3 separate regions of the Homo sapiens genome follow, and all the other regions are reported to be linked to region 3. The links are microRNA targets in miRTarBase. Many come from high-throughput screens and were not tested one by one. Region 3 holds a microRNA gene; each other region holds the end of a gene's coding sequence.
What was found. The annotated mature microRNA hsa-miR-548ad-5p reads AAAAGUAAUUGUGGUUUUUG and lies in region 3 at 1,892-1,911, shown strand. An mRNA with a match to its seed (bases 2 to 7 or 8) in the 3' UTR can be bound and repressed. Matches are read on the target gene's strand: a 7mer-m8 pairs with bases 2 to 8, a 7mer-A1 pairs with bases 2 to 7 and ends in A, and an 8mer does both.

Region 1: the mRNA of USP53 is a reported target of hsa-miR-548ad-5p. Seed matches in the 3' UTR shown: 7mer-A1 at 1,554-1,560, 7mer-m8 at 1,616-1,622, 7mer-m8 at 1,670-1,676, 8mer at 2,009-2,016 and 8mer at 2,372-2,379.
Region 2: miRTarBase lists ACTN4 as a target of hsa-miR-548ad-5p. Seed matches in the 3' UTR shown: 8mer at 1,034-1,041.

The regions. Positions count from the first base shown.
Region 1 is chr4:119,292,450-119,295,663 of GRCh38, forward strand. It overlaps USP53 (ubiquitin specific peptidase 53), which reads left to right. Exons shown (of 19, transcript NM_001371395.1): 19 at 1-3,069. The coding sequence ends at 762. Among named protein-coding and RNA genes, the nearest start is that of ARLN, 6.6 kb to the right of the region's middle.
Region 2 is chr19:38,729,171-38,732,411 of GRCh38, forward strand. It overlaps ACTN4 (actinin alpha 4), which reads left to right. Exons shown (of 21, transcript NM_004924.6): 21 at 104-2,419. The coding sequence ends at 262. It overlaps CAPN12 (calpain 12), which reads right to left. Exons shown (of 21, transcript NM_144691.4): 19 at 1,937-2,053; 20 at 1,795-1,853; 21 at 1,022-1,708. The coding sequence ends at 1,682. Among named protein-coding and RNA genes, the nearest start is that of CAPN12, 14 kb to the right of the region's middle.
Region 3 is chr17:67,470,197-67,473,452 of GRCh38, reverse strand. MIR548D2 (microRNA 548d-2) reads left to right here and starts at 1,868; the gene lies at 1,868-1,964. All of the region lies in intron 1 of PITPNC1 (phosphatidylinositol transfer protein cytoplasmic 1), which reads right to left. It overlaps MIR548AA2 (microRNA 548aa-2), which reads right to left and starts at 1,964; the gene lies at 1,868-1,964.

The sequences.
Region 1 (3,214 bases), not on the chromosome of region 3:
AAACCGAATGAATGCAAATTTTCTGAGTGGCTTAATATAGAAAATTCTGAGAGAACAGGTTTGCCTTTTCACGTTGATAACTCTGCTTCTGGGAAGAGAGTGAACAGTAATGAACCATCTTCATTATGGTCTTCACACCTAAGAACTGTTGGGTTAAAGCCAGAAACTGCTCCTCTCATCCAGCAACAAAATATCATGGATCAATGTTACTTTGAGAACTCTCTATCCACAGAATGTATAATTCGGTCAGCCAGCAGATCTGATGGGTGTCAGATGCCAAAACTTTTTTGCCAGAATCTACCACCCCCTTTGCCACCAAAGAAATATGCTATAACCAGTGTGCCACAGTCAGAGAAAAGCGAATCTACACCTGATGTCAAACTTACAGAGGTGTTTAAAGCTACCTCTCATCTTCCGAAGCACAGTTTAAGTACAGCTTCAGAACCAAGTTTAGAAGTGAGTACACATATGAATGATGAAAGACATAAAGAAACATTTCAAGTGAGAGAATGTTTTGGCAACACACCAAACTGTCCATCCAGCTCCTCAACTAACGATTTTCAGGCAAACTCAGGTGCCATTGATGCATTTTGCCAACCAGAACTAGACTCTATTTCTACCTGTCCAAATGAGACAGTTTCATTAACTACCTATTTTTCAGTTGATAGCTGCATGACGGATACATATAGATTGAAATACCATCAGAGGCCCAAGCTCTCTTTTCCAGAGAGCAGTGGCTTTTGTAATAATTCACTATCTTAGAGTGAAAAAGGACTAGACCTGTGTTACATAATAATCTTGGTTCAAGCTGCCCTTCTGAACAAAGATATAAACCTAGCATACATTGTAATAGATAACTGGTAAAACTGACCAACTTTTACTTCTCAGAGGCCATTTAAATATAATAGGAACCTACTGACCAAACCTAGTGATACATAAAATTAAAGCCTGTGGCATTTTTAAAGTTGTTAATCACTATACATATGTATGTGTATATGTGTATACACATATATAATTTTATGATCAATATCTTAGATATTTTAGAAATTCCCTTTGAATAGTCTTGGCGTGCCGTGAAAAATAGAAAATCAGGGAGATATAATAATTCATTTGTCATATGCTACAGTTGAATAAAAATTAAATTTGTCCCCCTATTTTGTGGCCAGTAGACTGGGAAGTATTAAACTAACCAGTACTCATGTATGGAGATTATAAACTATGCTAATTGAAAAGTACCAGGTGATACATAGCCTGGTACTTTTTTGTCAAAGAATTGCTTTATGAAGAAGCACTTTCTAATGGGTAACCAGAAAAGGGCTTCACCCATTTGTTTTTGACTTCTATGATAGTCACTGCATATGATCCCTTTAAGTGTCTTTAAAAAAAATGACTTATGAATTTGATAGCATTTGGGGAAAAAAAGCCTTATATGATTAACAATTTGTAAGTTTTCAAGATCGGATGGAATTTAATTTTGCTCCTAGAATTTTTGTCTTCAGAATATCTAGTTAAGATAAATTAGGCCTTTGACTATTATAGGTATTCATAAATGCTACTTTAGCCATGTAAGTTAAAAAGTTAAAATACTTAAACTTTAGTGTATTTATTTATCTCGTTACTTTTTTTCTAATTTTATATGAAATGTGAAAGGTCTTTATTTTGGTTTGGTTTACTTTGGGCTGCTAACCACCAGTGTTAGGAATTAATGTAGGGCACCCTCTTATTGGGAATGTCACTGTAATTGCCTACATTTTCTTTGCTGTAATATTACCTGCTTATAGGTTGTCAACCCATTTTATCTGAATTTGAAAATCTATCTAGGTTTCCAGATTAAATTTCTACCTTTCATATAGAGAGTTTAATTTTAATAAAATGTTTAATTAGAGCATCCTTCCCTTTTATTCTACTTTGAACAAATAGTAATTTTACCCCAACTACTTTTCATGAAGAGTGCTTTGAAAATTAAAGGAATTTTTATTATTATGGTAACCTTATGAGTAAAAATAAGTTACTTTAATTGCTTTATTTCGTTAGTTGTCATTTTATTTTGTACTATGCTGGTAAACTAATTGTGGTTTAGAATAGTTTTATGTTCACTCCTGATAACTGAGAAACAGAACTAAAGTTTTCCTTACATTGCTAAATGGATAAACCTCATATTCAATAAACTAGTAAATGTAGCCACTTGACTGATTGCGTAAATCGTGTTAAAACATTCTAAAATGTTGTAACTAATTTAATGTGAATACTGTTAAACAGAAAATAATTGCTTATAAAAGTCTAACTTCACCCAGTTACCAAGTCTTGGCCAAATTTTATCTTCTGCCTATAGTTTTTACTAGCCTTTTTAAACTATAATAGTGAGTGATCATTACTTTATATTCTCGTAAGTTAGAAATACTTGAATGCCAAATTAATTTTGTTTTAAGAAAGCTTATTTTTAACATAATTTTTTAGTGTGGAGGGTTTGTAAATAATGTAAAGTTTGTAAACCTGTATTTAAAATACCAAAGTTTTTCTTCTTTTATAACATTGTAAGATACTAGAAAAATGGGCTTCAAGTTTTTTAATAGCTTTCACAGTTTGTGTAGTTTTTTTTTTCTATTTGGTTAAGATGTGAGTTGGAAATGTATTATTTGAAACATTTAAACTAATTTTTGTATTTAACAGCAGTCTCAGACATTTGTCTTTTCAACTCAGTTGAGTTGTAGATATCAAATAGAAATGTCCAGTTTTGCCTCTTTTAAGTACTGTCCAGTTGAAACCTCCTGACTCATGTACTACTACACAAACTAGAAAATGCCCATTTATTTTTGTTGATTCAACACTCCAGATACAGATTGATACATATATACTAATCATTTTATTTCATGTAAAAGTTTTACATCTAGGGTGCCTATTTATTTTTATAGATGCTTTCATCCAGTTATAAGCTTATTATAACTTTGTAAATATTTCAGCCAACAGTTGTAATGTTTAAAATACTTACCTTCAGAATGTTATATTTTCATGTGAAATCAATTTCTTCTAATTCAAAAAAATTTTAAGATAAACTGATTTTTAAGTTTATATGATTGGACTTCTCTTTGCATTCATGAACTGTGTGTCACCCTCCCACCAACGTGGATTATTTTGGGACATGTTAAGTCGCGGGTACTTGGAATTTCACTGATCATAAACGGTTATCACAGGAGATCCTAGGAGTTAAACTCCA
Region 2 (3,241 bases), not on the chromosome of region 3:
CGAGGTGCATGGGGGCTGGCGAGAGGGGTCCCTGCAGTGGGAGGGGCTGAGGGGGCCAGTGTGTGGGTGGGGATGGCTCAGAGTCCCATCCTGCCTGCCCCAGAACTTCATCACAGCTGAGGAGCTGCGGAGAGAGCTGCCCCCCGACCAGGCCGAGTACTGCATCGCCCGCATGGCGCCATACCAGGGCCCTGACGCCGTGCCCGGTGCCCTCGACTACAAGTCCTTCTCCACGGCCTTGTATGGCGAGAGCGACCTGTGAGGCCCCAGAGACCTGACCCAACACCCCCGACGGCCTCCAGGAGGGGCCTGGGCAGCCCCACAGTCCCATTCCTCCACTCTGTATCTATGCAAAGCACTCTCTGCAGTCCTCCGGGGTGGGTGGGTGGGCAGGGAGGGGCTGGGGCAGGCTCTCTCCTCTCTCTCTTTGTGGGTTGGCCAGGAGGTTCCCCCGACCAGGTTGGGGAGACTTGGGGCCAGCGCTTCTGGTCTGGTAAATATGTATGATGTGTTGTGCTTTTTTAACCAAGGAGGGGCCAGTGGATTCCCACAGCACAACCGGTCCCTTCCATGCCCTGGGATGCCTCACCACACCCAGGTCTCTTCCTTTGCTCTGAGGTCCCTTCAAGGCCTCCCCAATCCAGGCCAAAGCCCCATGTGCCTTGTCCAGGAACTGCCTGGGCCATGCGAGGGGCCAGCAGAGGGCGCCACCACCACCTGACGGCTGGGGACCCACCCAGCCCCTCTCCCCTCTCTGCTCCAGACTCACTTGCCATTGCCAGGAGATGGCCCCAACAAGCACCCCGCTTTTGCAGCAGAGGAGCTGAGTTGGCAGACCGGGCCCCCCTGAACCGCACCCCATCCCACCAGCCCCGGCCTTGCTTTGTCTGGCCTCACGTGTCTCAGATTTTCTAAGAACCAAAAAAAAAAAAGGAAAAAAAACACAAAACAACAAAAACCAAAAAAAAAAAAAATCACAAAAACAAAAAAACTATAAAAAAGAAAGAATTAAAAACTTTCAGAGAATTACTATTTACTTTATTAACTTACGGATTTATTATATAAATATATATTCACCTAGCAACATATCTCTGCCGTCTCTCCTGCTCTCATAATGAAGACATAGCCGATTCTCTGCCCGGGCCCCTTGCTGATGCTCCTCCGGGTCTGCGTCGGGCGTGGGTCTCTGGGGACCCTCCAGAGGTGGAGGTGGGCTGATGGCCTGGCTGCCTGGTGGTTGATGGTTTTGCTCCCCCTACCTTTTTTTTTTGAGTTTATTCTGATTGATTTTTTTTCTTGGTTTCTGGATAAACCACCCTCTGGGGACAGGATAATAAAACATGTAATATTTTTAAGAAGGATTCCTGCAGCATCATCTTTTTTTATTTCTCCTGTGTCTGTCCTCCACCTTCTAGGAGAGCCAGGGCAGAGCTAGCACTGTCTTAAGCTGTCAACGTGGACTAGCTCGTGTCATCTGCTCGAGAAGGGCTGTCGCTGTTCTTGTTTCTGAGTGAGGAGTACGCAGGCCAGAGTGGTCACCCGGCCGTGAGCAGTGAGGGCCAGAGACTAGCCCCAGACAGGTGGATGCCAGAGAGAGTGGCACCCATGCCAGGCAAGGCCTAGGGAGGTGGTCTTGCTCAGCAACCCTGCCCTGAGCAGCAGGTGCGCCCATCCGGAGATCCTAGGAGAAGGTGGCCACCTCCATCCACTAAGGAAGAGAAGGAAGACAGTGGCTTGAGGCAGGGAGCTCGCAGGACAGAGCCTGAGCCACCCTGTCCCTCCCACCTGGCTCACCTGTCTGTGGGTCAGGCAGATGACCCCCTCACCCCCATCCAGGTGCTGGCTGCAGTGGCCTGTGCAGAGAGGGGCAGGGTGAGTGCCCACCAGTCCCCGTACCCCTTCCCCCCATGCCCCACCATGCCGGGGTGGTACTCACAGAAGATGCAGGTGAGGTGGGCCACACAGGACACGAACCGCTCGAAGTCCACACGCAGACGGCTATCCCGGTAGCGGCTGGTGAGGGTCTGGGTCAGCTGGTTGTTCAGGTGGAAGCCTAGGGGGAGGCTGCTTCTGAGCCCAGTGGCCCACAGGGAACCCACCTTGGCATTGCATCCCCACCCCACCTCCTCAGGGAGGACATGAATGCCACAGGGTGTCACACCCCAACTCTGCCCCATCCCGGCAGGGTGAGTACAGGCTGATCCCTTCAATCCTCTGGGCCTGTTTCCTCATCCATCAAACGGACTAAGACAGCCCCGACCCCATAGGGTGTGTGAAGACAGAACGCTCAGGACAGCGTCTGACACGTGACTCGATGTGTGGGTACTGTTACTCCTTAAATCCTGTGGGGCTTTCTCCTTGCCAGTGGGCACTGGAGGATATTTCTGTGCAGCAAAAAATATAGTCAATCCCATATGGAGTCAGTTTCCTTACAGTCTACCTCAGAGGCGATTTCTAAAGCTGAGAAACCATGTCTGCTGTGGAGTCTCATTGGAGGCTTTTAAAAACCCAAAACAATGGGTTCTTGACCCCTTCTGAGATGCAAGGTTGTGCCTGATGACCTTTGTCTCCCACACGGCCAGACAAACCCAGTTCCAAGTACCGTTTCATGGGCTTCTGCTGCTTCCAAAGCCCATCTTCACCCCCATTCTGTGTGTTCATTCTCTTCACAAATATCTACCAAGTAAGTGCCATTTCATGCTGTGCCCAGTGCCAGGTGCTGTTTTAACAGGAGGGCAGGTGGCCTGCAGCCTCTTCCTGCCCGTGTGACCTGCCCCAGGTCACTCCCTCTGGCATTCATCTGCCCTCGGGCATAGGGGTGGAGGCTGCCATGCCCAGGGCTATGGGGAAACCCAGCCAGATGGGGTGGAAGGACCCGAGAAGGCGCTGGAGCCCCTCAGCTGCCACTGCAGGAGTTCCCGTTTGAGAAATTCTCAAGGGCACTTTATCAGTTTCCTTCTTCCTGGAATAACTCCTGGCATGTAACAGGCACTCACTGGTGCCAGATGCGTGAACACAAGCCTGCCACCTGCCACCTGCTGTGAGTCCTTGCTCCCTCACCTCCACTCCTGTCTATCTCCGGCCCAGCCTCTCCCTCTCTGCCCCACGTCTCCCAATCCTTGGCTGTCTCTGACCCCATTTCTCCCCCTTTGACTTGGGCTTTTTCTTTTTTCTTTTTTGAGACGGAGTCTCGCTCTGTTGCCCAGGCTGGAGTACAATGGCATGATCTTGGCTCACTGCA
Region 3 (3,256 bases):
GGAGGCTGAGGCAGGAGAATGGCGTGAACCCAGGAGGTGGAGCTTGCAGTGAGCCGAGATTGTGCCACTGAACTCCAGCCTGGGCGACAGAGCGAGACTCTGTCTCAAAAAAACAAGCAGGCCAGGTAAAGTGGCTCACGCCTATAATCCCAGCACTTAGGAGGCCGAGGTGGGTAGACAGCTTGAGCCCAGGAGTTCAAGACCAGCATGGGCAACATAGTGAGACTCTATCTCTAAAAATAAGAATAACTTTTAAAATAATAAAAATACATTAATTGGCCGGGCACGGTGGCTCACACCTGTATTCCCAGCATTTTGGGAGGCCAAGGCGGGTGGATCACGAGGTCAGGAGATCGCGACCATCCTGGCTAACATGGTGAAACCCCTTCTCTACTAAAAATACAAAAAAATTAGTTGGGCATGGTGGTGCGCACCTGTAGTCCCAGCTACTCAGGAGGCTGAGGCAGGAGAATGGCATGAACCTGAGAGGCAGAGCTTGCAGTGAGCCGAGATCAGGCCACTGCACTCCAGCCTGGGCTACAGAGCAAGACTCCGTCAAAAAAAAAAAAATACCACATTAATTATGGTGCTGGTTTTAGCATATGTCCACAAATTCTTTGAAACCCCTCCCTGTAGGAGGCAGGGCCTAATCTCCCTCCCCTGAGTGACTCACTTCTAATGAATAGACGGTAAGCTTGTCCAACCCGTGGCCCAGGACAGCTTTGAATGTGGCCCAACACAAATTCATAAACTTTCTTAAAACATTATGATATTTATGCACAGACCTTTTTTTTTTTTTTTCTTTTGAGACAGAGTTTCCCTCTGTCACCCAGGCTGGAGTGCAGTGGTGCAATCTCGGCTTACTGCAAACTCCTCCTCCTGGATTCACACCATTCTCCTGCCTCAGCCTCCTGAGTAGCTGGGACTACAGGCGCCCACCACCACGCCCGGCTAATTTTTTCTATTTTTAGTAGAGATGGGGTTTCACTGTGTTAGCCAGGATGGTCTCGATCTCCTGACCTCGTGACCCACCCGCCTCGGCCTCCCAAAGTGTTGGGATTACAGGTGTGAGCCACCGCACCCGGTCCTTTTTTTTTTTTTTTTTTTTTTTTTTTTTTTTAGCTCAACAGCTGTCATAGTGTTAATGATGTATTTTATGTGTTGCCCAAGACAATTCTTCTTCCAATGTGTCCCAGGGCAGCCAAAAGATTGGACACCCCTGGAACAGAGTATGGAAAGGGAAATTAGCAGCTTACGGTGGGTAACTCTGGTAGACAACGCCTTAACCAAGTGATCAAGGTTAACTTCACCAGTGAGCAATCAGGTAGATATCATGTGCCCCCTAATATTATGTGATGAGAAGGCCATTTCACCTCTGGGGTATTCTTTCCCCAAACCCCAACTGCAGTCTAATGATCAGAAAACATCAGACAAATCCAGATTGAGGGACATCCTACAAAATACTTGACCAGCCCACTTCATAAATGTCAAAGTCATAAAAAAACAAGGAGAGACAGAGAAATTGACATAGATTGAAAGTGACTATTATGATATAATAATTAAGTGCAACATTATATCCTGATTAAATCCTGGAACAGAAAAAGGACATTAGTGGAAAAAACTGGTGAAATCTGAAGAAAGTCGGGAGTTTAGTTAATACAACTGTGCCCATGTTAATTTTTGAGTTTTGATAAATGTATCATAATTAGTACGATATTAACATTGGGGGAAGGTGGATGAAGACTACGGGGGGTTCTCTGGATTTGCAACTCTTCTGTAAATCTAAAGTTAACTTTAGGGGGTATATGATGTCAACCTGATTTAGCTAAAGTTAACTTTAGATTTACAGAATAATTGCAAATCCAGAGAGAGGGAAGATTTAGGTTGGTGCAAAAGTAATTGTGGTTTTTGCCATTGAAAGTAATGGCAAAAACCACAGTTTCTTTTGCACCAACCTAATAAAATAAAAAGTTTAAAAGGAAAAAAATCTCTCAAATGAAGACGTAGGTCCACACAAGGACTTGTATGTGAATGTTCATTGCAACTTTACTCAAAATCATCCAAAACTGGAAGTAACCCAAATGTCCATCAACTGGTAAATGAATAAACAGACTGTGGTATATCCATTCAGGGGAATGCTACTATGCAATAAAAAGGAACAAACTATTGATACATCCAATAATATGGATGAATTTCTTTTTTTTTTTTTTTTACATTTTTTTTTTTTACATTTTTTTTTTAATTTATTTTTTTATTGATAATTCTTGGGTGTTTCTCACAGAGGGGGATTTGGCAGGGTCATGGGACAATAGTGGAGGGAAGGTCAGCAGATAAACAAGTGAACAAAGGTCTCTGGTTTTCCTAGGCAGAGGACCCTGCGGCCTTCCGCAGTGTTTGTGTCCCTGATTACTTGAGATTAGGGATTGGTGATGACTCTTAACGAGCATGCTGCCTTCAAGCATCTGTTTAACAAAGCACATCTTGCACCGCCCTTAATCCATTTAACCCTGAGTGGACACAGCACATGTTTCAGAGAGCACAGGGTTGGGGGTAAGGTCACAGATCAACAGGATCCCAAGGCAGAGGAATTTTTCTTAGTGCAGAACAAAATGAAAAGTCTCCCATGTCTACTTCTTTCTACACAGACACGGCAACCATCCGATTTCTCAATCTTTTCCCCACCTTTCCCGCCTTTCTATTCCACAAAGCCGCCATTGTCATCCTGGCCTGTTCTCAATGAGCTGTTGGGTACACCTCCCAGACGGGGTGGTGGCCGGGCAGAGGGGCTCCTCACTTCCCAGTAGGGGCGGCCGGGCAGAGGTGCCCCTCACCTCCCGGACGGGGCGGCTGGCCGGGCAGGGGGGCTGACCCCCCCCACCTCCCTCCCGGACGGGGAATATGGATGAATTTCAAAAACATTGTGTTGAGCAAAAGAAGTGAGACACAAGAGACTACATCTGTATGACTGCATCTATAGGAAACTTTAAGAAAGGCAAGACTTTAGTGCAAAAGCAGATCAGTGCTTGTTAGGAACAGGAGTGGGGAATGTGGGGGGTAGAGAGAAGTAATTGACAGCTAAAAGTCACAAGGGAAGTTCTAGGGGTGATGAAATGTTCTGTATCTTGATGGGGCAGTGGTTACATGACTACAGTGTGTGTATATATATGTTAAAACTCATCAAGCTGTACACTTAAAGTGAGTTCTATTCTATGTTAGCTATATCACAATATGGCCAGGTGTGGTGGCTCATGCCTGT